Homo sapiens: one gene and its partners. The protein of the gene in region 3 interacts with the protein of the main gene of each other region in a pairwise test. Each region holds a gene or a part of one and is shown on either strand. Other genes may lie near its edges.

Region 1 (3,648 bases), on a different chromosome or scaffold from region 3:
TGTGGGCGTGACCTGGGCCCAGGATGGGAGTGGGGGCAAGATTTAGATTGGTTGGTGCCAGGGGCGGAGTCAGAACCTGAGAATAGTGTGGATGCGAGGTCTGGTTTTGGGGACGGACCCGACACCCAGATTAGGTGAATGGCTGAGGTAGGCCAAGACCCCTATGCCAAGGGTGGCACGTGAATGTTGGCGTGGGACTGGGGCTGGTTTCCAGGGGCGGGGCCTAAGAATCTAAAACCCAGTGCAGTAATCAGGAGGTGGGTATTGGAGGGTTCCCCTAGCAGCCGGTGCGTTGAGGGAGGGGCAGCCTTCTCTCTGAGCCCCTCCCTGTGTTCTCTTTCCCAGGAGACGAACTCACCAAGCTGGGCGAGGAGGATGAGCAGGGCTGGTGCCGTGGGCGGCTGGACAGCGGGCAGCTGGGCCTCTACCCTGCCAACTACGTGGAGGCTATCTAGAGGCCCCCTCCCTCCATACTCCCGTCACTCCTCCCCACTGCCGCCCCTCCCCTCCCACTCTCGTCTCCTTCCCCTCGCCATAGAGTTCCAGACATATTTTCCGATCAAGCTTTTATTTTTTTAAAAGTCAAAACAGAACAAAACAAAGTATGCAGAGACAGAGCATTTGCAGGGCCACCTGGAGGCTGGGGTGCTGGGGCTTGGGGTGGCCCCAGGGTAGGTAACAGTCTTAGGACTTAGCCCAACATCACAACATCTGCTCTTCGGGTTCCACCAAAGAGTCTCCTGAGCCCTGAGGGATGGATGTCTCCTGACCCTTCCACCCCGCCTCACTCCCTCCGTCCCACTCCACTCCAGGCTGCCGGCACCTGCCCCATTCCCTGGCCTGGTTTCCTAACCTCTTCTTCCTCCCCTGCCCTGCTTCCCTTCCTCCACCACCCTGCTCTCAAAGGCCTCCTCTCCAGACCCCTGGAAGGGAGGCTTCCCCATCTTTAGTTTTCCACTCTGCCCCGGGGAGCACCCTTCTACTCCTAGCCACGTCCCTTGGGACCGGTGGGACTGGAGGAGGAACGGTCACCCTCCTCCCCCATGGAGGTTTCCAGGGGTCCCCCAGACATGAAAGAGGGGTGAGCTGGAGGAAGTCATGGTGTCACTGGGGTACAGGAGGGTGAATGAAGGGCATGCAGGCCCTCAGCCCGGGCTGTGCCAGCCCTCCCAGCCCCAGGCCCATCTGAGGGACCAAGACGCTGTTACGCAGGCCCTTCTTTCCAGCTATCAGCACTTTCAGCATCGGCTCTTCAGCAGATCCAAACCCCCTCAGCAACTTGCAGAGGACCTGTCCCCTCTCAAAAGTCCCCTGGCCTAGGGTGGGGACCCCCAAACCTACGGCAAAGCCAGCAACAGTAGCAGCCTGCTCCCATTTGCTGGGGAGGAGATCATCTTGTTCCCCTGGCCCCCCACTCTCCCTCCATGTCCATCCAAAAACCATAAAATCACTGGGTTCCACATCAGCCTCCATGAGGCCAAGCCTTGTACCTGCAAGGCTCTTGGCCTAACCATTCCTCTGTCCTCTTCTCTGGCCTGCCTGGGGAGCCCGTGAAGGCCGCACGGGTGCCTCCAGCCTGAGACATCAGGGGAGAGCCTGCAGCTGAGTTCAGCAGAAAGGAGGAATCCTGGCCCTCAGGAAGAAGATAGTCACATGTTTTTCTTCCTTGTCCCCACGGCCCCCAGAACAACATTCTCCCTGCTGGCAGCCCTTCCATGTCTCCAAACCTGGGTCAGAGTGAAAGGACCTTTGGGGGTGGGTGGGAGCAAAGGGCCCACCTGCTGGTTGGTGAAAGCAGTGGTGCCGGAGTGCTAGGTACCGCACGAGAGGGTGCGGGGGCTTGGGAAGCAGACCAGGGTTGGACAAAACCCCATGAGGGCGGGGAGCTGGAAGAAAAGTCTCTTGGGGACCTCTGGGGCAAGGAGCTGAGAAGTCCTGCAGCACCAGGTGAGACTTGCTTACAGTGGATGCCACTTCTAGGCCTCTGGACCGCAGATGCCCTCCTCCCTCCTGCACACCTGGCCTCCTGGGCCTCCAGGTAAAGAGAGAGAGCCAGCCCAGCCCTGTTTCCCCTCAGTCCTCCTTTGCTCCTGCTGCTTCTCCCAACAGCCCACTGTTAGGAGGTAGTAGACCCCAGCCTCAAGGCTCTGACCTTCTTCATGTGGGCACAGAGGGTCCTGACACTCTGGCAGGGCCTGAGCTGGGGCAGGCCTCCCTCAGGGCCAGGGGCGATGGCACCCCGGGGACAGGCAGACCTCCTTCCTGCCGTCAGCACCCCCTTCCTTATCACTGTCTGGTCTCCGAGCTTCGGCTGCAGCCTGAGGTGTGTCCTGGGCTCCTCAGAGCCTGAAGCAAGCTTTTGGAAGCCTGCAGTCCTCCCAGCTCCAGTGCAGAAGCCTCTCTCTCCAGCCTTTCCCCAGGCAGGAGTTGGGGTTGGGGGCCTCTGTCCCTCATCGCTTACCTTGGAAAGGTGGGAAGCTGGCAATCTGCACCTTGGGGCCTGGGCTCCCCCTCTCTGTGCCAGCGGCTTCCCAGCACCTGGGAGGGGCTGCAGCCCCAGCTGGACTCCAGCCTGTCCCTCTTAGCACTCTAGCTGCCCACTCCAGGGCAGGGACTCGAAACCCCCTCCGTCCTGAGCAGCCACCTCCAGGGCCCTGTTTGGGACCACTCTCTCAGTCCCCAGGTCCTCAGGGCCCCAGAGCGGGAGGGTCTCCTACCTGGAAGTCCCCCTGAGCTCCAGGGCCCAGCCCTACCTGCCAGTGCTGGTGTCAGGGCACTCAACACCGAGTGTGGGGGCCACGCCCCTTGCCATGCCCACGGCCTCCTCCTGTAGCTCCTGCCTGCACCCACGATGCTGCACGGGCCCGCCCTGGTGGGGCTCGGCGAGTAATGTGTTTTGTCCCCAGTTAACCACCATTCTGCGGCCTGGTTCTGCAAGGAACCAGGGCTGCCCCACCGCCCGCCGTCTGCCGCCCTAGGCTTCCTGACTCCATTAGTTCCGACACTTGTGAAACTCCGAGAAGTGCTGTGGTCTCAGCAATGCACCTGTTTTGTACATGATTGTGTAATTTAAAGGTATATAAATACAAATATATATATATATCAGTTGTGATTGTATGACTGTGGATAAAATCCAGAACTGTGTCAACCTGGCTGCGCATTGTCATCTTGAGTCTGTGCACCTTCAGTCCTGGGGGTTTCTGAGCCCTCTGAGAGCTATTTGTGGTTGGGATGCAGGGGGGTAGGGGTGGTGCCCGAGCAGGACTGGGTGCTGTCCTGGCCCACCATCCACAGACTAGGCCACTGAGAGCCGGTCCCTTCGCCCTGCGGGGGCCTGGGTCTTGTCTGGACTGGGGAGGGTGATACTGGAGGCTCCTGGAGCTCTGGCCCATTCAGGTTCCGGGTGCCTGGTGACAGGCCCTGACCAGGAGAGCTGGGGCATTCAGGGTTCCACATTCATGGATCAAGAGTGAATGAGGTCCTCAAATAGGTTTTGCTTTTTAAAGCAGAATTCTAAAAGTGACTGCTGAGGCCCACGGTTCCTGGCTGTCCACAGTGCCAAGCTCCCTGTGCGGTGATGTTGGGCTGTGCCATGCCTTCCTGCGTCTCGCCTGGCTCTGAATGCATTTCTGTGTGGGACCCGTGGGA
Region 2 (4,083 bases), on a different chromosome or scaffold from region 3:
TCGTGCTCCACCCGCTTTGGCCTCCCAAAGTGCTGGAATTACAGGCGTGAGCCACTGCACCTGGCCTCTATCCTGAAGTTTTTAGGCAAATTGGGCTCCGTTCTGCCTCCACTAAGCCAGTATCTAGGGAAGCTGATGCTAAACAGAACTACAGCTCCACTAACTCAAAGGGGACCAGGTTTCTCCGTTGTCTGGAACCGATGGTCTTCCTGGGAATTGACGTTAGGGAGGATTTTTGTCTTCGTGAATTAATTTTGAGTGTGCTGCAGCTGGAGCAGCAGAACACCTTGATTCTATGCCTGGCCCCATCTTCCCCGATGGAATGAAAAACAAATGCTCTGTGGCTCAGGTCTCCCAAGCCAGAGAGTGGGGATTCCTGACATTCCTGCTTTAAAGAGAAAAGGCTGGAATAAACATGTATGTTTGACTGTTAACTGTATGTGGTTGTTCACCAGCCGTATACTGTGTGCCCTAGTAGAGTTTACAAACTAGAAGAGCTATGGGCATGGTAGTATCTGTGGACAGAAACTGATGTCCCTAGAGCTAAAGCCTCTGTCATTCTCTCCACCCTAGGCCTGGTCTCCAAGTCCTCTCCTAAGAAGCCTCGTGGACGTAACATCTTCAAGGCCCTTTTCTGCTGTTTTCGCGCCCAGCATGTTGGCCAGTCAAGTTCCTCCACTGAGCTCGCTGCGTATAAGGAGGAAGCAAACACCATTGCTAAGGTAGGTGGGTTGGGGTGGTAAGATGCCAGCAATGAAGGGACTGTTAATGGGAGATCCCTGCAGACGATGGCAACCGGACAAGGAAGCTTTGCCTGAAGTTGCAAAGATTTCTGGCTGAGAGGGGGCCCTTCCTCCATCCTTCCATAAGTAGTGTATTTCCTTTCTGTTCCTTCCCTTTTGCGGTGTGGGCCATTCACATGTCACTGTGGTTTCTGAGGGCCCCTGTGATCCTGATCCTTCCAGGTTCCAGGAACTAGGCAAGGTGCTTTGCATATATTGTCTCATGTGATCCAGCCAGCAGCCCTGTAAGGAGATCACAGGATTCACACTTTGCAGATATGGATTTATGTAGAGGGTTTATGTAGCACCTGAAGAGTTCATGGTTAATAAATAGTAGTGTCAGGATTTGAACTTAGATTTCTCTGGCTCTAAAGCCTGTGTTGTTGTTCTCAATTATGCAAAGCTAACTTCCAAGTTACCTGAGTTACAGGGAACCAAGGAATTGAAACTCTACCATGCTGTTAATAACTCCTGTCAGCAGTTCTCTCCCATACTCATGCAAGGCATTTGGGATTTTGTGGGTATTTTTTATATGTCTAGTATTTCACAGGTGGGGCCAGCCCCGACCAACAAAAATTATTCTGCCCCAAAAGCCAGTGGTACTTCTCTGAAACACTGAGGTCTGGTTGTCCTTCCTTTTTCTCAAGACCAGGCTGAAGACATACATCAGTGAAAAATCACTGCATTTTGCAGTAGGGGAAATGGTTAAATAAAATACAACATGACAGTATTACTGAGTGATTAGCTTTTACAGAGTTCTCAATAACATGGAGAAGTATTGAGTTGCAACATTAAGTAAAAAGGCAGAGTGTGTAATTGTATAGCATTCTGGAAAAAGTCTGCGGACACAGATTTGAAGGCAGTACACTGAATGCCACATTGTTTATCTAAGTGCTAGGATTTTAATTTTTCTTCAAAGTTTTCATTAAGAACACTTAAAACCATAACTTTTTTTTTTTTTTTTTTGAGATGGAGTTTCGCTCTTGTTGCTCAGGCTGGAGTGCAATGGCGTGCGATCTTGGCTCACCGCAACCTCCGCCTCCCGGGTTCAAGCGATTCTCCTGCCTCAGTCTCCCGAGTAGCTGGGATTACAGGCATGTGCCACCACGACCGGCTAATTTTGTATTTTTAGTAGAGACGGAGTTTCTCCATGTTGATCAGGCTGGTCTCGAACTCCTGACCTCAGGTGATCCGCGCGCCTCGGCCTCCCAAAGTGCTGGGATTACAGGCATGAGCCACTGCGCCCGGCGGTCATAACATTTGTATTAGCAAAAATTGGGGTGGGGGGCTTGCTGATCTCTCTGCACTCCCTCCCCTCACATTTTGGGTACCTACAATGTGGCTTACTTGATGTTTTATAGGGCTTGTTCCCCCACATAACCCCTAAGGAGGGCATGGAAAACAACATGTTCTCAAGGAGAAGCCTGAGTTTAAGGACTTAGCGAGAGTTTGCCACTGTGAGGAATTCAGACTTTGGTTCTGCCTCTGACTCTGTGTCCCTGAATCAGTTACTTGAGTTCCCTGTTCCTCACTTTGTCCAGTTGAGAGGCAGTGGCAGCCGAGAACAGGGACACTTGTCTTCTCCATCCTTCATCAGGCCTAATGTGGAAAGGAAGCTCTAGCCTTTCCCTTTTCCTGCCCCACTCCTAGGAAAAGTCACTTTTGACATGGTAGGAGCTTCCAGGTGGCTGGGTCTGGGGGAGAAAGTTGCCCTCCAGGCTTAAGACAGAAGCAGTGGGTTTGGATGGGGTGGGAAAGGCAGTGAGATGGCACTGACCACCTCCTTCTCTTCCTCAGTCGGATCTGCTCCAGTGTCTCCAGTACCAGTTCTACCAGGTACGTGACTCTGGCCTGGTAAGTACTCAGAAGCCAGGATCCTGTGATCCCTGCCAGCTCCACGGGCAGGGTGATGTGCATAGTCCTTGGTGCCTAGCCAGCCACCTCCCTGACCTGGGAAGCCATTTGTTCCCCATACTTGTTGAGGGCCTGCTATGTGCAAGGCATTAGATTTTAGGGGACAGCTGGTGCTCCATGCCCTCTTCCCACAGCTGCTGTCCATCCCACACCTGCCCTGGCCACCACCTCCAATGTCCAGATCACTTAATAGTCCCACTGGGAGGCTGAAACCAAGGAAACAACTCCACCTCCTTTCTTCCTGGCCTTTAAGTGGTGCCTATCCTGGGTTGGTGATTGTGTCTCCACAAACAACCCAGCTCTTCCCATAATTATGCCAAGGGGTACAATTGGGCTTTCTTGGTAGGCAGATCTCAGCAACCTGGCTTGGTTTTAGATCCCAGGGACCTGCCTGCTCCCAGAGGTGACAGAGGAAGATCAAGGAAGGATCTGTGTGGTCATTGACCTCGATGAAACCCTTGTGCATAGCTCCTTTAAGGTAACTCAATGTCTGGAACCCTTCCTACCTTTATCTTGGGCCTTCTTGTGAATCTGGCAACAGATGTGTAAGGCAGCCTAAAGGTGAGGAAAGAAGAGTGATTAGAAGGGAAAAGGCCAGGCCTCTGGCATTTTGGCCACCCTGTGTCACAGGTATCTAGAGGCCCCACTGAAGAATGTTGAGTAGGAACCCTGTGTGTTCCACCAGGGCTGCTATCTCCAGTCACTCCCAACAGGCTGCATCTGCCCCCGAGCCACATAGCACAGAAAGCCAGCCACGAGGGCTCTGTACAGGGCAGGCCTAAAAGAGTGGTTGGATCACCTTTGGCCCTTGCCCCTGCTTGTCTCCTCAGGAAACTCAGGCCCCAAAACTCTCAGCCCAGGTAGAATTTGTCAGAGTGGAGGTGCTAAGGAGTAGGGAAAACCAGAATGGGGTATCACATCTTGAACTAGGGTGAGAACCCCTTAATGAGGTGGCCAGAGGCACTTCCAGGAGTCTTTAAGACCTGTTTCTCCCCACCCACCTAGGGGTATGGTGGGGGCCTCATGTTTCTTTGCCACCATGCTGACAGCATTAACTTTTCTGCCTTCCAGCCAATCAACAATGCTGACTTCATAGTGCCTATAGAGATTGAGGGGACCACTCACCAGGTGAGCTGCCAGCCAGACCACACCCAGCCCAGAGGGTGGGGGGTCTGCCTTCTGCCTCACCTGTACTGGGGTCCTCCACCCATCTCAGGGCTTGGGTTCTGTCAGTTGATCCCTTTTCTATAACTCCAGCCTCCCCTTTTTATTGGTATCTTTCACTCAAGGCTTTCTCACCTTAAAAAAAGAGTTTCAGCCCCATATCCCACCCAGCTGTCTCCCTTGTTTTCTCTTTGCAACCAAGCTGTTTAAAAGAATAGTTTAC
Region 3 (4,083 bases):
ACTGTGGGACACAGCCCCTTATTCCCAGAGCTCCTCATAGGCCTCTCGGCTAGCTGGCTGGCAGGAGAGCCACAGGTTTTGACCCTTTGCTTGGCCTTGTCATCGTTTTTATACTCACTAGAGAGTGATGTGGGTGGGTGGGGGGCTGCTGCCTTCAAGTAAACCAGTGCAGGGATGAAGAGGCCAGGGCCGTCCAGCTTTTTGTTCCCATCTTCAGGGAAAGAGACCAAAGCGTGTGTGTGGTTTTTTTTTTTTTTTGAGTTGGAGTCTCGCTTGTTGCCTACGCTGGAGTGCAGTGGCACGATCTCAGCTCACTGCAACCTCCGCCTCCCAGGTTCAAATGGTTCTCTTGCCTCAGCCTCCCAAGTAGCTAGGACTATAGGCACCCGCTACCACGCCTGGCTAATTTTGTATTTTTAGTAGAGACGGGGTTTCACCATGTTGGTTAGGCTGGTCTCAAACTCCTGACCTCAGGTGATCCACCCGCCTTGGCCTCCCAAAGTGCTGGGATTACAGGCATGAGCCACTGCACCCGGCCCAAAGCCTTTCCTAATGACAATCCTAACAGCAATGATGGCTTTATTGAGAGAAGCGTGACACGTGCTTCACCTTTACAACCTCATCTGCATTCTCACAACAGTGCTGTAGCCCGGCTGGGACTTGCCTGGCCTCAGGGATGGTGGCATCAGAGCCGGTTATCAGATCCAGGCCTGTCTGAGCCCAGACGCTTGGGTGCTCCTCTGGGGAGCATGGGGTGGGGGCAGCCCCCAGCTTGTGCCACGGGAGCCTGACCTTGTGATTCGCTGACCTCGGCCTCCTAAAGTGCTGGGATTACAGGTGTGAGCCACCACGCCCGGCCAACAGTTTTTTAATGGGCACTCTTTAAATATGAATCATAGCTCATAAGAAATCTTTCTGGTAGCCAGGCGCGGTGGCTCAAGCCTGTCATCCCAGCACTTTGGGAGGCTGAGGTGGGCGGATCATGAGGTCAAGAGATAGAGACCATCCTGGCCAACATGATGAAACCCCGTCTCTACTAAAAAATGCAAAAATTAGCTGGGTGTGGTGGCACACGCCTGTAGTCCCAGCTACTCAGGAGGATGAGGCAGGAGAATCGCTTGAACCCAGGAGGTGGAGGTTGCAGTGAGCTGGTATCATGCCATTGCACTCCAGCCTGGCAACAGAGTGAGACTCCATCTCAAAAAAAAAAGGAAATCTTTTTGGTGTTGCCAAGCTCCTGCTAGTGAGTAACAGAATTCTCCCTCAGAGGTCAGCTTGCAAGAAGAGGTTTTCTGTTGGCACCTGTAACTCAACAGAGGTACCAGTATGCATTTATCAGAACCCAAGGCAGCACGCGGGACATCTGAATCAGGGAACACCAAAGCCCTCCCAAAACTTTAATCTAGTGGAAGGAGGCCAGGAGAGTGAAATTGCAATGAATTATGCACCACTCAGTTTCAGCACTGAGCAGTTAATTGACACCCTCGGCTCACCAAGAGATCACTATCAAAATACCCCTCAGATGAAACTGACGGGCGTAAATGAACATGACTGCTGATCACTGGGTTCTTAATAAGCACAGCGTTCCCAGAGGCCTCTCCTCCCTACTGCTCAGCCACCTGAAATCAGGAAAACCGATAAGAGGAGGAAGGGTGGAAGATTCTGGAGAGTCTATACGCCATAACCTCCAAGTAGGTGAGTGAGATGGCCCAGCGGGGCGGGAAGTATTGCAAATTTGGACTTATTTAGCATGCAAGCCTTTTAAATGTGCGTTTTGGTACATAACATACGCACTCTACTCCTACAGTAGTGGACATACGTACTTTATATACCATATATATGGGCTGCATGTTCTGTTTTTTTTTGTTTTTTTTTTACTAATGAGAGTACGTGATAAAACTCAGGTTTATAGATTCTGCTGTCAGTAAACATCCCACCATAAATCTTCAAGAAGTAGGGCTTTGTCCAGTCCCTTCACATGTACCCAGTCTGCAGTCCATTAGAATGGAGTCCACCATTGCCATCCCCAGGATCCTCTGTGAACCCAGATGCTTGGCCTACCCCCCACCTCCAATATGGGTTGGCTGAGTCCCCACCCAAATCTCACCTTGAATTGTAATAAGCCCCACGTGTCAACGGTGGGGTCAGGTGGAGATCAATGAATCATGGGGAGGTTTCTCCCACATTCTCGTGGTAGTGAATAAGTCTCACGAGATCTGATGGTTTTATAAAGCGGACTTCCCCTGCACAAGCTCTCTTGCCTGCCGCCAAGTAAGATGTGACCTTGCTCCTCATTCACCTTCAGCCATGATTGTGAGGCCTCCCCAGCCATGTGGAACTGTGAGTCAGTGAAACCTCTTTCCTTTATAAATTACCCAGTCTTGGGTATACCTTTATTAGCAGCATGAAAACAGACTAATACACCCCTCAATGCTTTTGTTCAGCTGGTCTGCAGCAGAACCTGGACTGCTGGTTCTGGGGGTCAACCATGAACATAGAACAGAGCCTGGCCTGTAGTAGGCACACTACATAAATGTTGGCCATTATTATTTTTGCTAGTGTCTTGAGACCCCCTCCTGAGCTGATCCCAACTCCCTTGCTCGCCTAGGCAATGGCACCAGAAAGATGCTCTTCCCAGAGACCACCAGGACACGGGTTCTGTCCATGTGCGTGTCCTGGTTCCACCTGGCTGCAGCGAGCTTCTCACATCAGTGCCTTCACCGTGAGCTGCTTGTCACGCAGCCTGGTGCTTACTATTGTTGAATCTGCTCTGAGACAGCAACCACAGATGCCGCGGGTAATAGGTGGGAGATGGGCTAGCTCCTTGGCGGGCTTCAGAAGCACCTCTGCCTACAGGACTGAACTCACTGCTGGAGCCTATGCTCCTCGGGGACTCTCAGAGGGAGGGGATAGGAGGCAGGTGGGGAGAGGAGAACCTTCCTCCTTCCGAAGCTGAACCATTGACAAAGGCCATGGCTGCCCTTCTGTGCGGGCTCCATTCACAGCTTCCCGTTGGCCTATGATGGCCTGAATGTAGCCTCTGGCAGGGAAGGGAAGAGCAGTGGGGTTGGGGGAAGCGGGGGACTTACCGCTCTCTCCCTGGCCCTTGGAGTGAGGCATCTCAGGCACGTCAGTGGTGTCTCTGTGCTCTGCAGCTCTCCTGGAGGTCCTCGTCTTGGTGGGCAGCTCTGGGGCCTGCAGCAAGGTACTCACAGCCCCACGGACGCCTTGTTTCCCCAGCTCCTTTTCCACTTCTAAGAATCATACAGGGACAGAAACAAAAATCCAGCAGCCATCAGTACTGGTGTTGGCTTGGTGTGGTGGTTCTCTTTCTTTGTAAGGTAACAGTGCTCATCTGCATACAACTAAAGAAAAGGCACGTGGATACCGGAGAAACAGCCCTTAGCATTTCTTAGAACTCTGCAGGGCTGCAGCAGACAAGAAAGCACAATACTCCACACCTCTGCCCAGCTTTCTGGTCTCAGGACAGGCTGGTCTGTGAACTTTCACCAGGAAGTGAACCGAATGACCCAGGCTGCAGTCCCACATGGCTGCCCTTTCACCCCACTGCAGGTACCCCGGGATGGGTACTTTACCGTCTGAGATACTGGATTCCTGGAACATTGTTTCAAAGGCTTGGTGGATTTCAGCAAAGGAGGGCCGGTCAGAGGGATTCCACTGCCAACCTGGACAGATGAAACCCAAGTCAGATCATCCATGAGATCTGGCTAGCAATACGGGGCTAGCAGTTCTCAAGGAAAAGTCTAGAATGAAAGCAACATTCCAATCCTGCTAACCATCTTTTGCTGCAACAAGTCAAAACGATGAATGTCATCATGTCCTGTTATAGACATTAAGAATTTGAAAAGACGTTAGATGCTGGCAGGAATATGGATTGTAAAACCCCAGAGAGACAGTGACAGCAAGAACTGCATTTACAAATATATTTTTCCCAGTCCCGCTCTAGTAGGTGTAGAAAATTACTAAGCCAAACAGCTCACCTTCTATCTTGTTCTTTCTTCACGGTTATCAAAGTCTGAAGTAAAGAAATTCTCATGAAAATGAGACTAACATGAGGACTAA
Region 4 (4,558 bases), on a different chromosome or scaffold from region 3:
TCAATGAGGGTAAGTATTAGCAAGATAGTTAAGATTCAGTAAGATATTAGTAAGATAGTAAGATATTAGCTAAATCTTATAGAAGTACAGTTATTCAAATTGCTGTTTTAACATAAATTTTAGAATGAACTATTTGATAAGAAATGAACTTTTTCCTGGCTCTGCCACCAGTGAGCTTTATGCTTGGGCTGCTTACCTGATTGTGATGTTTCCCACCTATTTTCCAAAAGGCAATGGGAATGGCTACCACTCTTACCAGGGCAATTACTAGACTTAACTATAGTCTGAAGAGTTAAAAATAGATACATGTGGCTGGGATTGAGTTGCTGGTTCCGATTCCGAGCTGCTGGGTCCTTCCCCCTCTCCATTACCCATTTCTCCAAGGAACTCTTCCCAATGCCAGACCCATGACTGGGGATGCCACAGCTGCTGTCACTTTTTCAGGAGAAGAGAAGCTGCTGCAGGATGCCCTGCCTGATTGGGAGCTTATGAGGCCTCAAGAGGAGGAGCACTCTCTGCTCTCCCACAAGAAGCGAACAGCTATTGTGCCTGCCCTGACAGCACAGGCTGGACATTGCAGATGCCTGCAATTAGTATCCTGCCACCAGGTTCTGTCTGGCCAGACTCCAAATCACAGGTTGGAAATAGGCTTTTGTGTTTAACAAATATCACTGTGATTAAAAAACAATAGGCATATCCCTTTAGCCCCATAGGTTCCTAGGCCTATAGCATGGGGCATGGCTAGAAGAAGCCCAGAGCAAGATCCTCTAACATGGGCTCTTGCCCTGGTCTGAGGGCAGTGATGAGTAAACTTATAACTCTAGAGATGTTCAAGCTGCAGGAACAACTGTTCTCCATTGAGGTGGAAGTTTTGCTCATCATTCTTTATAGGTTACAGGTTTGCACTGGATGAATGACCCAGTTGCAGCCAGCCCCTTGTCAGCTCAATGCCATTTCCATTAGCCATTGCTGTGCTACAGGCATTATATACTATCATGTTTAACGATATTTTTTCTATAGACCAAATTTTTGACTCTATTAAAACAGCCATATGTTACAGACCCTGAAACATTTTCATTCCATAGGACACTAAAAGTGTCCTAGAAGACCTTCCTCATCCTGTGACATGATTCCTTCCCAAAGCATTCTCTCTGTTCTTTGGATTTAAAAGAGTAATAATAAAAATATACGGCCCTCAATGTGTAAAGCTATTAATAAGGGTTTCCAGATTTCAACCTAGAGAAGAGGAAACATAAATTAAGAGCACAGAAGTCAAAGAATTGTGTAGCTTTGATTGCAGGCAGTTTATCTCAATGGTGTAGTGGGAAGAACCCAGCCTTTGTGATCAAGCAAACAGAACTGCTGCTATTTAGCTGTCTAATCTTGGACAATATATTTAGCCTCTCTGAGCCTCAGATTTCTTTTTTCTTTTTTTTCTTTTTCCTTTGAGACAGGGTCTTTCTCTGTTGCCCAGGATGGAGTATAGTGGCACATATCAGGGTTCACTGCAACCTCGACCTCCCAGGCTCAAGCAATCTTCCTGGCTCAGCCTCCCAAGTAGCTGGGAACACAGGCATGCACCACCGAGCCCAGCTAGTTTTTAAAGTTTTTTGTAGAGATGGGGTCTCACTGTGTTGCCCAGGCTAGTCTCTATCTCCTGGGCTCAAGTGATTCTCTTGCCCTGGCCTCCCAAAGTTCTAGGATTACAGGCATGAGCCACTGTGCCTGGCCTTCAGTTTTCTTATTTGTTGGAATCAACTTAGTTAACAAATACTTATCAAGTTCTCACTGTGTGCTGGGCTGTATGTCAGGCATTGAGTATATAGCTGTAAATAAGACAGGCATGGCTCCTACCGTCATGGAAATTACAGTCTAGCAGGATCAAGTTAAATGAAATAATATAATGTCAAAGTTCTTTCACAAAGTTGGTATTCAATAAATGCTAATCCCCTTCCACTTCCCTTCAAATATACGATCATTATATATTCTGACACTCAAACATAAGATGGCCACAGACAATTTCATACATACAAGAATTGTGTTGGGAGCCCAGACACCCATAGTATAAGGGAACTCTTCAGCATTATGTCTCACGAAACTTAGATCAGTGTGTGGTCTTGATTTAAATCCATGTAACCAAGGGTTTCTATTTATGGTCAACAATGAATCCTTATTTTTGGTGGACTTTAAGGAATTATACAAATATTGCCTCATTGATGCTTTCAGACCATTTGTGAAGTGAATGAGAATAGGTATTATTATTATTAAACCCATTTTACAGATGAGGAAGCGGATGGAAGCACATTCTTCGGGGCCTTCTTTGTTCTCTAGTCCTAGTCTGCACAAAGGAAGCACTGGATAGACGCTGTGTGCACATTGACCGTTCTGGCAACTTGGAAAGGAGAGGTACCCCGCGTTAGCAAAAACAGATATTGACTCAGGGTTGCATTGCGGCCGCTCAGCTCTTGCCTTCTCCCTCATTTCTTCAGGTGGGTGAGAAATGGGCGACTGGAGTTTCCTGGGGAACATCTTGGAGGAGGTGAATGAGCACTCCACCGTCATCGGCAGAGTCTGGCTCACCGTGCTTTTCATCTTCCGGATCCTCATCCTTGGCACGGCCGCAGAGTTCGTGTGGGGGGATGAGCAATCCGACTTCGTGTGCAACACCCAGCAGCCTGGCTGCGAGAACGTCTGCTACGACGAGGCCTTTCCCATCTCCCACATTCGCCTCTGGGTGCTGCAGATCATCTTCGTCTCCACCCCGTCCCTGATGTACGTGGGGCACGCGGTGCACTACGTCCGCATGGAGGAGAAGCGCAAAAGCCGCGAGGCGGAGGAGCTGGGCCAGCAGGCGGGGACTAACGGCGGCCCGGACCAGGGCAGCGTCAAGAAGAGCAGCGGCAGCAAAGGCACTAAGAAGTTCCGGCTGGAGGGGACCCTGCTGAGGACCTACATCTGCCACATCATCTTCAAGACCCTCTTTGAAGTGGGCTTCATCGTGGGCCACTACTTCCTGTACGGGTTCCGGATCCTGCCTCTGTACCGCTGCAGCCGGTGGCCCTGCCCCAATGTGGTGGACTGCTTCGTGTCCCGGCCCACGGAGAAAACCATCTTCATCCTGTTCATGTTGTCTGTGGCCTCTGTGTCCCTATTCCTCAACGTGATGGAGTTGGGCCACCTGGGCCTGAAGGGGATCCGGTCTGCCTTGAAGAGGCCTGTAGAGCAGCCCCTGGGGGAGATTCCTGAGAAATCCCTCCACTCCATTGCTGTCTCCTCCATCCAGAAAGCCAAGGGCTATCAGCTCCTAGAAGAAGAGAAAATCGTTTCCCACTATTTCCCCTTGACCGAGGTTGGGATGGTGGAGACCAGCCCACTGCCTGCCAAGCCTTTCAATCAGTTCGAGGAGAAGATCAGCACAGGACCCCTGGGGGACTTGTCCCGGGGCTACCAAGAGACACTGCCTTCCTACGCTCAGGTGGGGGCACAAGAAGTGGAGGGCGAGGGGCCGCCTGCAGAGGAGGGAGCCGAACCCGAGGTGGGAGAGAAGAAGGAGGAAGCAGAGAGGCTGACCACGGAGGAGCAGGAGAAGGTGGCCGTGCCAGAGGGGGAGAAAGTAGAGACCCCCGGAGTGGATAAGGAGGGTGAAAAAGAAGAGCCGCAGTCGGAGAAGGTGTCAAAGCAAGGGCTGCCAGCTGAGAAGACACCTTCACTCTGTCCAGAGCTGACAACAGATGATGCCAGACCCCTGAGCAGGCTAAGCAAAGCCAGCAGCCGAGCCAGGTCAGACGATCTAACCGTATGAAGTGACGCCAAAGAAAAAAAAAAAAACGCCCAAGCTTACGTAGGGCAAGATGAAAGGAACAGGTGCCAACATGATCTGAATCTTCTGTCTCCTGTCCTCCCACCAGCCTCTGGTTGGACAGGCACTGCAGCAGGGCAGTGCACTCCAGGCAACTCTAGGAAACAGTCTTTCCCACATCCAGCATAAGGGCTACCAAGATAAACCCATCGACCCACTAAAGTTCCCCAGTCTCATAGGACTACCCCGCTCCTCCAACCCCAGCAGCTATGGGTGACTCTTCTTTCATCCCCATTTCTCCATAGAAACCCTTAAATCGGAATTGGGGTTGCCTCATAGCCTTTTACCCATCTTGTCTCAAGCTCACTAAGCCAGAATCTATCATCCCAGCATTTCTGAAGCAGATACCATGTGACCATATTTCAGGGATCCAGACTCAAAAGCCTACAGAATACAGACAGGTGACATAAGTTGCAAGACAGGCCTGTTCTAATGCAAGGGAGAGAATGGGGCTGTGAAAGTTGGAAAGCAGGGGCAGCTGCTGCTCACTTCCAGACAATGAGTACCATGAAGTGTTACCTGGTCTTTCTGATTTTTCAAGGGAAGCCAGAAATCCAACCTTTTTTTTAGACAGGCTCTCTCTTGCCCAGGCTGGGGTGCAGTGGCACAATCTCAGCTCACTGCAGCCTCAACCTCCCAAGCTCAAGTGATCCTCTCACCTTAGCCTCCCAAGTAGCTGGGACTATAGGCGCACACCAC
Region 5 (4,083 bases), on a different chromosome or scaffold from region 3:
CGTCGCCCGCGAAATGGAAGCCGTCATCAGTGGCAAACACCAGCAGCCGCGTGACGTTGCGCCAGCCGATTTCCTCCTGAGAAGAAGGCGTGGGGGGCAGGGTTACCTGCCTCAGTTTCCCAGACCCGGCCCTCTGGAGCAGAGGAGACGATGCAGAGCTGGTGGGGTGGCCCGGAGGCTGGTGTGGGTCCCCCTTTCCCCTGGGTCTCAGGGACCCAGCTGTGTTCCCCCAGACGCCACGCCCAGGAGGAGACAACGGCCCTCAAACACCCCGTGCACATGTGAGGCGCAGGGAGTGGAGGCACGTGTGGAAAGGCAAGGAGAGAGACACGGCTGCGGTCCCTGCACTTCAGAGCTGGGAACAAACCCTCAGGAAACCATCCCCAAGGGGAAAAACCCTCGCAGACGTGTGGGCCACACGCAGAACGAGTGCAACATGGAGGAAAACGAGCCTGAGGGGCCCAGCAGGCCTTGAGTCCACCATTGACAGCCCCTGGCAGGCGCATGTGGGGGCCGTGCGTGTCCTAGGCTGTGACCTCACACTCGTGAGCAGTGTGTCTGCGCTGGGACTGCAGGGAAGCAGGAGAGCTAAGGTGGGTTGTGAGGGGAGGACAGTGCATGTGGCCTCAACATGGCCCAGGGACTGTGGCTGCTCTGTTAGGCTGACAGTCACAAACTGGGTGGGCGGGACGTGGAGAGCGACACACACTGGGCAGCCAGCGCCCACCCGGCCTGGAGGGAGGAGGGTGGTTCCACCCCAGGAACCACGGGACCTGCTGCCTAGCGGCCCTGTTCCACCCTTGGCCGCTCGCAAAATGTTTAGGCTTCATAAGGTTTGCCCAGGGTCACAAATTTAACTCACAGCAAACAATGAAATCAGCGCATGATTTTCGAGCCCTCGTGGTCACCCTCCCTTCCTCCTGCCCTTTCCTGCATGGGCAGCAGCAGGGTGAGGAGCTGCTCTCCCCAGGCCCAGGCTGGAGTCCCTCAGACGACCTGCCGGCCAGGGTACCCCCCTGCCCCCACACAGCGCCTGACAGAGCCCCCCACACTGGGGGAACGTGGGGACCCAAGCAGGGGCAGCGGCCTCACCGGGCAGGCGGCGACCTGCATCATGGCGTCCAGCCCACCCTCGGGTGCATCCAGGTTTCCGGAAATCAGCTGCTTCCCGACCTCGGTCTGAAACTGGTTGGAGTTGTTGGTCAGCTTCAGCACGTGCCTGAAGGCAAACGGGGGCTGGCACTCTTTCTCCTTGTTGGGGCATGGGTTTCGCAGCTTATCAGGGTGCGTGTTCACGAACGGCAGCACGGTCTTGTCCACGAAGGACCCGAAGCCTGCAGGGCACATGGAGGGGCTGGGGAGGTGGCAGGCTGGGCCCAGGTGGGAGGGCCAGCTTCAAAGGGGCACGAGGGCAAGCCTGTTTCCTCTCTCCTAGCAGGGAGGTGGAGAAAGCAAGATGGCACATGTGGAGTGTGTGTGTGAGCATGTGCGTTGTGCAAGCACACATGTGAACGTATGTGGGCGTGTGTGTGAACCTGGGAGTGTGCAATGTACATGGATGAGCATAAGTGTATGCATGTGTGTTCCTGCATGTATGTGTGTGACCAGGTATACATGTGGGCATGTGAACAGGTGCGTATGTGTATCTGTGTGTGCAGCCATCTGCATGTGTAAACATGAGTGTGTACATGCGTAGCACAACTGTGTGTGCACGTATTCCTGTATGCATGTGAGCATGTTCAGGTATGGACACACCTAGTTCACGTAGGTGACCAGGTACATATGTGGGCATGTGTGTTTATGTACGATTTATACATGTGAGTGAAGACATACATGGGTGATCATGAGTGTGCATGTGAGCATGTCTGTGTGCACATGTGGTCTTGCACGTGTGTATGACTGTGTGTGCATGTGTGTGCACATGCAAGTGTGAGCATGCATTCATGTGTGTGAGCATGCATTTGTGTGTGAGCGTGCATTCACGTGTGTGAGCGTGCATTTGTGCATGTGAGCATACATTCGCGTGTGTGAGCATGCATTTGCGTGTGAGCATACATTCATGTGTGAGCATACATTCACATGTGAGAGCATGCATTTGTGTGTTTGAGCATGTGTGTGAGCATACATTCACGTGTGTGAGCATGCATTCACGTGTGTGTGCATTTGAGTTTGGGTGTGCTTTTGTGTGTGAGCATGCATTCGCGTGTGTGAGCATCCATTTGTGCATGTGAGGATACATTCATGTGTGAGTGTGCATTCGCATGTGTGAGCGTGCATTTGCGTTTGAGCATGCATTTGTGTGTGAGTGTGCATTGCATGTGTGAACATGCATTTGTGTGTGAGCGTGCATTCACGTGCATGAGCGTGCATTTGTGTGTGAGCGTGCATTTGTGTGAGCATGCATTTGCTTGTGTGTGTGTGTGTTATCGTGCATGTGTGCATCCCCGCATGTAGGGAAGGTGGCAGAGTGCCGATGTGAGAAGCCACGGCCGGCGGGGAAGACATGCGCTGTGACTGACACACACGTGTGCTGGAGACCTGCTCTGTGGCAAGGCAGTGCTGGTGTAGAGCGGAGCCCTTGGCCCAGCAGAGCTTGCTGTGTGGTTTCTTCAGTGCTGCCGTCGCTGTGCCGTCTATATGTGTTGTGGTCTTTAATGTTTAATAATTGGCACTGTCAGAATTTTGTCTTTTAAACATACCAAGAAATAAATAAAGGAAGTAGAAGATGGAAGGGGAAGTGGAGGGCTGGACAATGTCTACAAGTGTTGGGGAGCCAGGGACTGGGTGTGGCCCCTGGCAGGGAGGCAGGCCGACTGCAGCCCTGTGGATGCCCTGGGGGGACCTGCATCTGGGGCCCCCAGATCTACCCTGGGGACCTGAGTGCGAGGAGTTGTGTGGGCCACAGGCAGGAGTGGCCAGGGTCTGGGAAAGGACTGGGTTTTGTCCTGCAGTGCCTGGGCCTCACCAATGCGGCCGGACTCGGTGATCTCGTTGAGGGCCCGGAGCAGGTCGCCACCTAGCTTCTTGACATTCCTGAGGTCATCAAGCATGGAGTAGGAGAGGTCCATCAGATAGTACAGGTCGATGGGGTAGCCCTTGGCCCGCCGGAAGGTCACGTTGAACGCTGCTGCCTGGCCTGCCGGTGGGGACAGAACAAAAGGAGCCACACCTCACATCTCACACAGGGTGTCTGGGGGCGTGTGGCCCCGAGCGGGCTGTGCACTGGCACCCTCTCCTCCAGCCCCCAAATCCTCCTGACCTCCCCTCTCCCCGCCTGGCAGGAGAGCTGAGGACCAGACACAGGACATCCAGGCAGGCTGGAGTTTCAGAGGAAGGACATGACTCCCGGACGCAGGCATGTGCCTCGCAGTGACACTGAAACCCGCCTGGGGTGCTTAGAGTTGACGCCAGCGACATTGGGGACGCCTTTCATTGAGAGTGGCAGCGGCTCACCTGGGCTCACACCTAACCCGGCCCCATGCCTGCAGTCCCACGGGCGCCCTCATCAGCAGCCACATAGACAGGCATCACACGAACCTGGCACTTCCCAGCAAGGCCCACGCGGGCCGTCCCCAGGAGGCCCCTTTCTCCATCCCAGCCCTGGACTTCCGCTCGCCCGCGTCTCAGTCACACGTGCGGTTGTGTAGCTGTCTGTTTACCTGTCACCGCAACCAGCCTGTGTCCCTGGCTCCCAGAACCGTGCCTGGTACAAGTCAGCTCTCCATAAACACACATCATGTTAATGAATGAGCAGGGAGGGAGGGTGACGAAGCCTGTCCCCTCTGCCCCACCCTCCAGCCTTCAGCCCCCCTGGGCGGCAGGACAAGTGCAGAGCCCACTCCACCCCCAACCTGCCTGCTGCCACACCCTGGGAGAAAGGGTATGTGCCCCTCCTCACAGACACACACACACGCACTCCTACACATAAATACACCACATGCACACACAGTCACACATGGCATACACACCCACATATATGCACACACACAATACTCACACACAAATATAACTCATGCACACACAGTCACACGTAGCACACACGCACCCACATATACACGCACATGGCACCCACACACAGCAAAC
Region 6 (4,083 bases), on a different chromosome or scaffold from region 3:
TTGTAAGCTCTCTTCAAAATACCTCCAGAGAATACCAGGACCAAAAGGAAAGATTTGGTGCCACTTTAATTTAGAAACAAAAATTCTGTTCATGCCTATGGGAAAAAACATACAGGTATCATCAGTATCAGCTTTTATTGAGAACAGGTTTTTTTCTCCCACGCTTTTTATAATCAGATTCCTGCCTCCCTTCCCACCCTACCCCACAAAATTGACCATTTTCTTGAAGGAAAATTATCTACTTTTATACTTATTTACACATTTTTCCTGTTAAGGTCTGAGGTTTCAACCTTATATGTTCTATATTTGCAGTGGTCAGATATGTGTAGTGTACCTTCAGAAAACTCTCAAAAGATTTCTTTATATATATTCCTTTCTTTCTGAAGGACAGGAAATTTACGTAGGAAATGTTTAGGAGCCCACAGCTATGAAACAACTCTACCATTTATTGACAGTCTTACTTGGTGAAAGTTGAGAAGGGAACTAATAAGGAGGTAGCTATCTTGGTTTTAATCATTACTCCCACATTTACGTGATAGGATGAAGTTGTTTTGCATCGTAGGTACTACAATGTTCTTCATTTTTCATATGTGAATTACTTTTTTAATAGACGGTGGATTCAAGCCAGTTATAATTACGGCACCAGTAAGTGCAAAGGTTGCAGACGGAGACTTTGTTACTCTGTCCTGCAATGCCAGTGGGCTGCCGGTTCCGGTCATTCGTTGGTATGACAGCCATGGATTGATAACCAGCCATCCATCTCAAGTCCTGAGATCGAAATCCCGAAAATCACAGTTATCAAGACCTGAGGGCTTGAACCTGGAGCCTGTGTACTTCGTCCTGTCCCAAGCTGGTGCAAGCTCTCTCCATATTCAGGCTGTGACTCAGGAACATGCGGGGAAATACATCTGCGAAGCTGCAAATGAACATGGTACCACACAGGCAGAAGCATCTCTCATGGTTGGTGAGTTGCCATTATTATTTATTTTTAGTTGAGTAATTTCCTTTTATAATAGAAGATAAAGTGATTTGAAATATGTTATTTTAATGAATCCAGCAATCTCTCTATATTTTTTCCTGATGACAGTGAAATGTAGAACTGTATTTCTTGGTATTTCACTTTATGTGAATCACATGAATTTTGGTCTCTGTTTCTGATGTGTTTGTTAAGATTGTAGGTGCAATACAGAAAGCTCTCATTTGGGAGCAGGCCCAGAATATAACCTGTCTTTGAGATGAATGCTTTTGGTTTTCTAAGCTACCGAAAATGATATTGCAGACATTTTTTATGCCCTTGATAACTACAGTATTGGGTCTAAAGGACTGGCCTTCATTGAGAATGTAGAGTTGTGGTACTATTAAGTAATACCTGTATGTATATATTCCCTGTGTCTTATCCAAAGTTATTTTCTAATGGGATGTATAATATTAATTCTTCATATTTTACTGATTTTTTGTGATGATGACTTAAAAACTATATATGATTTTTGATGTACTGGTATATAGACTATTAATATTCATGGAAATGGACTCAAACTTGACTTAATTCAAATTCAGACCTTCCATCAGTAGGCATTTAGGGCAGCTTTCCCCAACAGCTAGTCAGTTGGGTGTAGATTGTCATCTTATTTGTCTTGTGAGAGGCCCAACATCAAAGGCAGTACTGCCTTTAGTTTTGGGTAACTGAGGTCTCTGACCCTGGCCTCTGCTTTAAGGGGCTTAGCGTGGCTCTCTTCTGCCTGGGGCCATGGTCCCACAGGTTAAAGAGCCCATAGGGTCGAGGAGCAGTGCTTATGCTGAGCTCAGAGCCCACATTCCTCCTTCTAGACAGGTCTGGGGCTCCAGCATTTCCTGCTTCAGTGAGTTCACAGTCTGGTCCCCACAGTTCCTCTCCCCTGGCCCATCCGCCACAGTCTGGACCACACGACCAGTGTGTGGGCACCCTTAGCCAGAGCAGTGGTCAACGGGGGGTCCTTGGCAGAGGAGTGATGGTTGAAATAAAAAAGAGTTCGTATGTGCACATACGATTTCCCTTCACGTGCAAACAAGGACGCCCTTGCTCTGAATGAAGCTGGAGGCGGAGGAGAAGTGGTGGAGACCAGGGACTTCCCCTTATCCTCTTGTGCATGTTAGAGGTGGGAGAGATGTGGAGGCTGAGCACGTGGGCTGTGTCAGAATCCTGGCTCTGCCACTTAGCAGCTTTGTAACCCAAGGGCAAATCACTGCACTTCTCTGTTCTGTTTCCTCATCTGTGTAACAGGTATAGTGAAGGTGCCCCACTCATAGGGTTGATGTGAGAATCCAAGGAGTTAATGCGTAGTAAGTGCTTAGAATGGTGTCTGGCAATAGAAAGCCCTCCATTGATACTAAGTATAAAGTTATGATTGTTACTGTCTAATTATTATTAAATTACAGTGATCTCTTGTGGCAGTGTTAAGGGAAGGAAGAAATAGTTACTGATTTTAGAAACATTAAGAATCCTTAAATGAAGAAAGTAGTTCAGTGTTACATAAATTTGCACCTATAAATGAATGTGCGTGTGTGTTTATATTTCTATTCCTCTAGGCAAAAATAAGAGTGGCTCTGCTCGAAATTGTTAACTGCATGACAGGTGTAGTTGCAGGAGCTCCTTGGGTAGAATTTAGCTGAAGCGATTATGTGAATACAGGGTGTAGAGAGACAGATGTCATAGTTTTATGGCTGATGAAACTAGATATTTTGTCGAACTTCCTCACCTTAAATATGAGAAATCGGAAGCCCTTTGAAGTTATGTGAACTAACTTTAGAAGATCTTTAAGATTCCCCTGTGCTCCAGGATTTTATGTCTCGATAAATACTACTTTTATGTATGGTAACCCCATCAGCTGTATTCTACCAAAGAGGTCCTACGTTGTCTTTTTTTAATTTTCTAGTATAATTATTAAGATCCAACCGAGTTTATTAAAACTCAAAACAATACATGACAACTCACTTCTTTGCATAGGAATCTGAGCCTTATGAAATTCTAGCATCCTGACAAGTCATTTGACTACTGTACTGTAAAGGGGAGAGCAAGCTAGGTTAGAGAGAGAGATAACTCTCTCCCCAGCCTTTTGTTTTTTCCAGAGACTTTGGGTTTTTGAGGTCCTGGATGTACAAATATTTGTAGAGTGTGTGGTACTCTTTAAAACTATAATGAGAGTTGGTGCGGGTTTCCTAAATAGTTTGGGTTGTGAGTTGCTGGCAGCAGTGGTCACAGTGGGAGCATCTTTGACAGATATGGTTGTACTCCCTCCCTGTTTAATTAGTTTCCACTTAGAGTCATTAAATTTATTTACATTGCCGTAGTTGCATCAATCTCTTTTCCGATTCAAAAAACATTCTACCTTAAAAGATGCTAGATGCCTGTTCTACCCATTTCATAGAGTTCTGAAGATAAGTTGAGATAATACATGCAAAAACACCGGGGAAGTACTGGTAAGGTCTTTTCAGTTGTATTGAGTGTATCTCCCAAGTGCCCAGATTATATCATTGAAACAGAAGAAGAAAGTTAATTGAATCCCCCTTTTAATAAAAGTTCTGGAGAGGTCTCATTGCATCTTAAGTCTTACAGAAATGGAATTTTGATACTCAGACAGTGGAGAAGCTGCAGCATTAACGTTTTTCTCATGCTTCTGTATGAGGCATGTGGCATTTAAACTCTTTTACAGCCAGATCCCACTTCCCAGTGGAAAACTGCCCGGAGGATCCACTAAACTTCTAATGATAAAAAGGTCCTTCTCCACTACCTCAAGCCACAGTTAATTATCTCCACTTGCCGAGTCCTTCTGTCTGCATTAGCAGGCACCAGATCACACCCTGAACATCAGTCCGCAGTCTGACTCACTAGATAAACACTGCTGTTCCAGGAGCAATATTTTGAAGTTGTCTCAGTGAACTTAATTAGTTTTCTTCTACATTATTTCCTCACTAGCTTCTTGTTTTCTCTGATGGAGGATGCTTCTGGGACACCCTTTCTCTCTTTTAAACTAACAGAGAACTAACCTTACACTGTCAGTCCTGTTTTCTGTTGGTTCTCTACTGCAGTGCAGCCCTTCTCCCAAA
Region 7 (4,083 bases), on a different chromosome or scaffold from region 3:
AGATTGTCAAGTGGCCAGGCATTGGCTCTTTTTGTAAACAGTATGAAGGTTAGAGAAGTGAACAGTCTTTTCAAGGCCAAACAGCAACTCAGTCATGGCAAAGTCTGTGTCAAATTGGAGTTTCAACTGGTGCCTTTTTGGTTTATGCCACCTCTTTCCATATACATAGAGTAAATAAAATGCTGATTTAATTTAGATTCCTCAGAACTGTTTCTTGCTGCTTCCTGTATTTGACTAGTTCTGAAATTAAACAACAACAGTGTAAAACAGTCAATCTAATTATAAAAACAATAGTTATAAATCAAAACGTTAATATACATATCCAGGCCAAAAAAATTTCTAATGTATCCAGCACTGAAAGTAAAGTAAAGAACTTTTTTTTGTTGTTGTTGTGAGACAGAGTCTCAGTCACCCAGGGTTGAGTGCAGTGGTGCGATCTTGGCTCACTGCAACCTCCACCTCCCAGATTCAAGTGATTCTCCTGCCTCAGCCTCCCAAGTAGCTGGGACTACAGGCACGTGCCACCATGCCTGGCTAATTTTTTGTGTTTTTAGTAGAGATGGGGTTTCACTGTGTTAGCCAGGATGGTCTCGATCTCCTGACCTCATGACCCGCCCGCCTCGGCCTCCCAAAGTGCTGGGATCATAGGCGTGAGCCACCACACCTGGCCAAGAACTTTTTGCAATGATGGAAATGTTCTGTATCTGTGCTAACCAGTATGGTAGCCACCAGCCATGTACTGAGCATTCAAAATGTGGCTATTATGACTAAAAATAATTGAATTTTAAATTTTAATTAAAATTTAAATAGCTCATAATGGTTAGTGATTTTCTCACTGGACAGTGCCCATTCAGAGGTTGAAATATTAACTTTTCAAAACAGTTAAGTAGCTTGTGGGGATATATTTAGATAATATTAGAATATTGCTGTAATAAAATGATATATCTTACATTCTAAGATGCTACTATTGATGATTGACTTAGGCAAATGCTTCCACTTCTTATGTGCTCATCTTTTCTTGCCTGTTAGTGGATTTGTAAGAATAGGAGTAACAGTCCTGCACCTCAATACTAACCAAAGATCTGTAGATTTGCCGTGGCCATTATACTTAAAAATTCATTATTCTTTTTACCCTTTGTTAGCTGGTTTTGCTATAGTATAGTAGTAATTCATTGAATGATGCTTTTTGAACTTTTTAGTGCAAGAAACTTTAAAATAAGTTACAGAAATTGAACTTTAAGGCCACTAGGTTTTGTTTTTTTTTTTTTTTTTTTGAGATGGAGTCTCGCTCTCGCCCAGGCTGGAGTGCAGTGGCACGATCTCGGCTCACTGCAAGCTCCGCCTCCCAGATTCATGCCATTCTCCTGCCTCAGCCTCCTAAGTTGCTGGGACCACATGCCTGGCTAATTTTTTTTGTATTTTTAGTGGAGATGGGGTTTCACCATGTTAGCCAGGATGGAATTGATCTCCTGACCTCGTGATCCACCCACCTTGGCCTCCCAAAGTGCTGGGATTACAGGCGTGAGCCACCGTGCCCAGCCTAAGGCCATTAGGTTTTAAGAAAATGTTGTAAATCACTTGAGGATTGAGGATATTCTTTTAATATTTAGTTTGTGATTTCAGGACTTAGTATTCTTATACCACACTAGATTATTAGTAATGCTAAGTTCATGTAAAAGAAAACCATAGTTCTCTACATCCCCCCAAAATTAGAATAATAATCCTCTGTTTTAAAAATCGGTGCCCTCTAGGCCAGGCACAGTGGCTCACACCTGTAATACCAGCACTTTGGGAGGTCGAGGTGGGCGGATCACTTGAGGTCAGGAGTTTGAGACCAAGCCTGGTCAACATCGTGAAACCCCATCTCTACAAAAATACAAAAATTAGCCAGGTGTGGTGGCACATACCTGTAATCCCAGCTACTCAGGAGGCCGAGGCACAAGAATCGCTTGAACCCATGGGCGGAGGTTGCAGCGAGCCGAAATCACACTACTGCACTCCAGCCTGGACAACAGCGAGACTCTGTCTCAAAAAAAAAAAAAAAAAAATTGATGCCTTCTATAGTTGAGAACTATAGGTATGAGTGGAATCTATAGCCAAGTTGCTCTGCAACATAAAAATTAATGATCTTTCTCATTATAATCAAATGTAAATAAGTGAGTTTTTTTTTCCTTGCTAAAGTATGGGACTATATTGGAAAAAGATGTTCTGGTTGTGGAGAAAGACATCAGTGGTTCTGATAATTCAAACAGATGGTGTTTCTTTTGGCTGGGTTAGATCTCATGTCCTGAGGAACCCTATCAGGGAGGGTAGGTCATCTCCAAATCTTGAATAGTAAGTGGCCCTTTCACAGTGCCGTATCAGTAACCATGAAGGTAAAGAGATTGTGGACTTTGGTAATACTCACTGTAAAATCACAGTGGTAGACAGTCATCAGAGACCTATATATGCATACAAGTTATTCAGCACCAACACCAGGAGATATCCTGTATTTAGGATGTAAAACTTTTTCTAGAGTGTTTTTTGAAATTTTGCTTTCAATTGACTTGGTTAACAAATTATTGTTTCCTGTGGATCTCTAAATTTGAGGCCCTAATGGAAACAAACTAGAATCAAGCTACAATCATTTCTGTTATATCAGCCAATCAGAAGAGTTATTTGTTCTGTCTGGCTATATGTTGTTAAATTCTATATGGTAATGTGAAAAAATACTTCAGCTTAGAGCACCTCTCCCTCCCCTACATACCTACCCACACATTTCTCAGAGGAGTTCTTATTGCCACAGCCTTTGGAGTAAAACAGCTCAGAGCTTGAACCTGGCTCTGTTGCATAATAGCTGTAGCTCCTCAGTTTTCATCTATAAAATGAAAATAACGGAGATGAGGATTAAGGGAAATTATATACACAGCACTTTGCAGCCAAATACTGGATACAAGGTAAGCACTCGATCAATGGTATGCTGAATTATTTTATCCTACATTAATGTATTTGAAAAAAACATAATTGGGGATGATTAATATGTCATTACAGATGTTTTTCCCCTTTTCCCTAGGATGAAAATGGGATAAATAGACCAGTCTGTTCCTATGTTAAACCACTTCGAGCTGGACGGCTTCTTGATACTCCAAGGCAAGCAGCAAGATTTGTTAATGTCCTTGGTTATGAACGAGCCCCTGTTATTGGAGGAGGAGGTAAACAGGAGCAGTGGTGCACTCTGCTGGCCTTTCTCTGTAGAAACAAGGTATTATACACACATAATAGAATTAAGTAGCAGTATATCATAGTTACTCTGAATTTGTAATCCATTTGTAAAAGAATGCCTTAGAAAAATGCACATATAGTCAACCCTCTGTACCCACAGGTTCTGTATCTGTAGATTCAACCAACTGCAGATCAAAAATACTTACAAAAGTAAAAAATTACAATAATAAAAAATAGTACAAATTAAAAAATGGTGTGTAACAACGTTTATGTAGCATTTACATTGTATTGAGATTTTTAAACAATTTAGAGGTGATTTAAAGTATATAGGAGGATGTGCTTAGGTTATATATAAAATACTATACCATTTTGGCTGGCCGCAGTGGCTCATGCCTGTATCCCAGCATTTTGGGAGGCTGAGGCAGGTGGATCACCTGAGGTCAGGAGTTCAAGACCAGTCTGGGCAACATGGTGAAACCCTATCTCTACTAAAATACAAAAAATTATCTGGGCATGGTGTCGTGTGCCTGTAATCCCAGCTACTCAGGAGGCTGAGGCAGGAGAATCACTTGGACCCTGGAGGCGGAGGTTGCAGTGAGCTGAGATCGCACCATTGCACTCTAGCCTGAGGACAGAGCAAGACACGTCTCAAAAAAAAAAAAAATACTATTTTATATAAGCCTTGAGTATCCACGGATTTTGTTTTGCAAGGGTCCTGGAACTAACCGCTTTGGGGTGCTATCAGCTTGACCACGTCAGAACCTTGTTCTGTTTTTCATAACATTTAAATATCAATACACAAAAAACTCAGCATCTTTATTTTCTCATGTAGTTTCTTATTTATTGTGATTTCTGTGATGTAGGGACCTACAAGTACTAAAA

The links.
Region 1: the proteins of ABL1 (region 3) and PACSIN1 interact in a two-hybrid assay, tested with the Homo sapiens proteins (one large-scale study listed by IntAct).
Region 2: the proteins of ABL1 (region 3) and CTDSP2 interact in a two-hybrid assay, tested with the Homo sapiens proteins (one large-scale study listed by IntAct).
Region 4: the proteins of ABL1 (region 3) and GJA8 interact in binary tests that used the Homo sapiens proteins (3 or more experiments, as listed by UniProt).
Region 5: the proteins of ABL1 (region 3) and ITGB2 interact in binary tests that used the Homo sapiens proteins (3 or more experiments, as listed by UniProt).
Region 6: the proteins of ABL1 (region 3) and CDON interact in a two-hybrid assay, tested with the Homo sapiens proteins (one study listed by BioGRID).
Region 7: the proteins of ABL1 (region 3) and CEP76 interact in a two-hybrid assay, tested with the Homo sapiens proteins (one large-scale study listed by IntAct).

Annotation. Positions count from the first base shown.
Region 1 is NC_000006.12:34,532,076-34,535,723, forward strand, and holds the end of PACSIN1 (protein kinase C and casein kinase substrate in neurons protein 1), read left to right. Parts: intron 1-345; coding exon 346-455; 3' UTR 456-3,148; downstream 3,149-3,648. UniProt on the Homo sapiens protein: Plays a role in the reorganization of the microtubule cytoskeleton via its interaction with MAPT; this decreases microtubule stability and inhibits MAPT-induced microtubule polymerization.
Region 2 is NC_000012.12:57,826,087-57,830,169, reverse strand, and holds part of CTDSP2 (carboxy-terminal domain RNA polymerase II polypeptide A small phosphatase 2), read left to right. Parts: intron 1-573; coding exon 574-722; intron 723-2,579; coding exon 2,580-2,618; coding exon of another isoform or gene 2,619-2,636; intron 2,637-3,072; coding exon 3,073-3,174; intron 3,175-3,767; coding exon 3,768-3,824; intron 3,825-4,083. UniProt on the Homo sapiens protein: Preferentially catalyzes the dephosphorylation of 'Ser-5' within the tandem 7 residue repeats in the C-terminal domain (CTD) of the largest RNA polymerase II subunit POLR2A.
Region 3 is NC_000009.12:130,879,671-130,883,753, reverse strand, and holds part of ABL1 (tyrosine-protein kinase ABL1), read right to left. Parts: intron 3,687-4,083; coding exon 3,597-3,686; intron 3,255-3,596; coding exon 3,090-3,254; intron 1-3,089. UniProt on the Homo sapiens protein: Non-receptor tyrosine-protein kinase that plays a role in many key processes linked to cell growth and survival such as cytoskeleton remodeling in response to extracellular stimuli, cell motility and adhesion, receptor endocytosis, autophagy, DNA damage response and apoptosis.
Region 4 is NC_000001.11:147,905,456-147,910,013, forward strand, and holds the end of GJA8 (gap junction alpha-8 protein), read left to right. Parts: intron 1-1,700; exon of another isoform or gene 1,701-2,489; 5' UTR 2,490-2,500; coding exon 2,501-3,802; 3' UTR 3,803-3,814; downstream 3,815-4,558.
Region 5 is NC_000021.9:44,900,400-44,904,482, forward strand, and holds part of ITGB2 (integrin beta-2 isoform 1 precursor), read right to left. Parts: intron 3,137-4,083; coding exon 2,966-3,136; intron 1,335-2,965; coding exon 1,093-1,334; intron 77-1,092; coding exon 1-76.
Region 6 is NC_000011.10:126,007,222-126,011,304, reverse strand, and holds part of CDON (cell adhesion molecule-related/down-regulated by oncogenes isoform 2 precursor), read left to right. Parts: intron 1-610; coding exon 611-964; intron 965-4,083. UniProt on the Homo sapiens protein: Component of a cell-surface receptor complex that mediates cell-cell interactions between muscle precursor cells. Promotes differentiation of myogenic cells.
Region 7 is NC_000018.10:12,685,420-12,689,502, reverse strand, and holds part of CEP76 (centrosomal protein of 76 kDa), read left to right. Parts: intron 1-3,052; coding exon 3,053-3,241; intron 3,242-4,083. UniProt on the Homo sapiens protein: Centrosomal protein involved in regulation of centriole duplication. Required to limit centriole duplication to once per cell cycle by preventing centriole reduplication.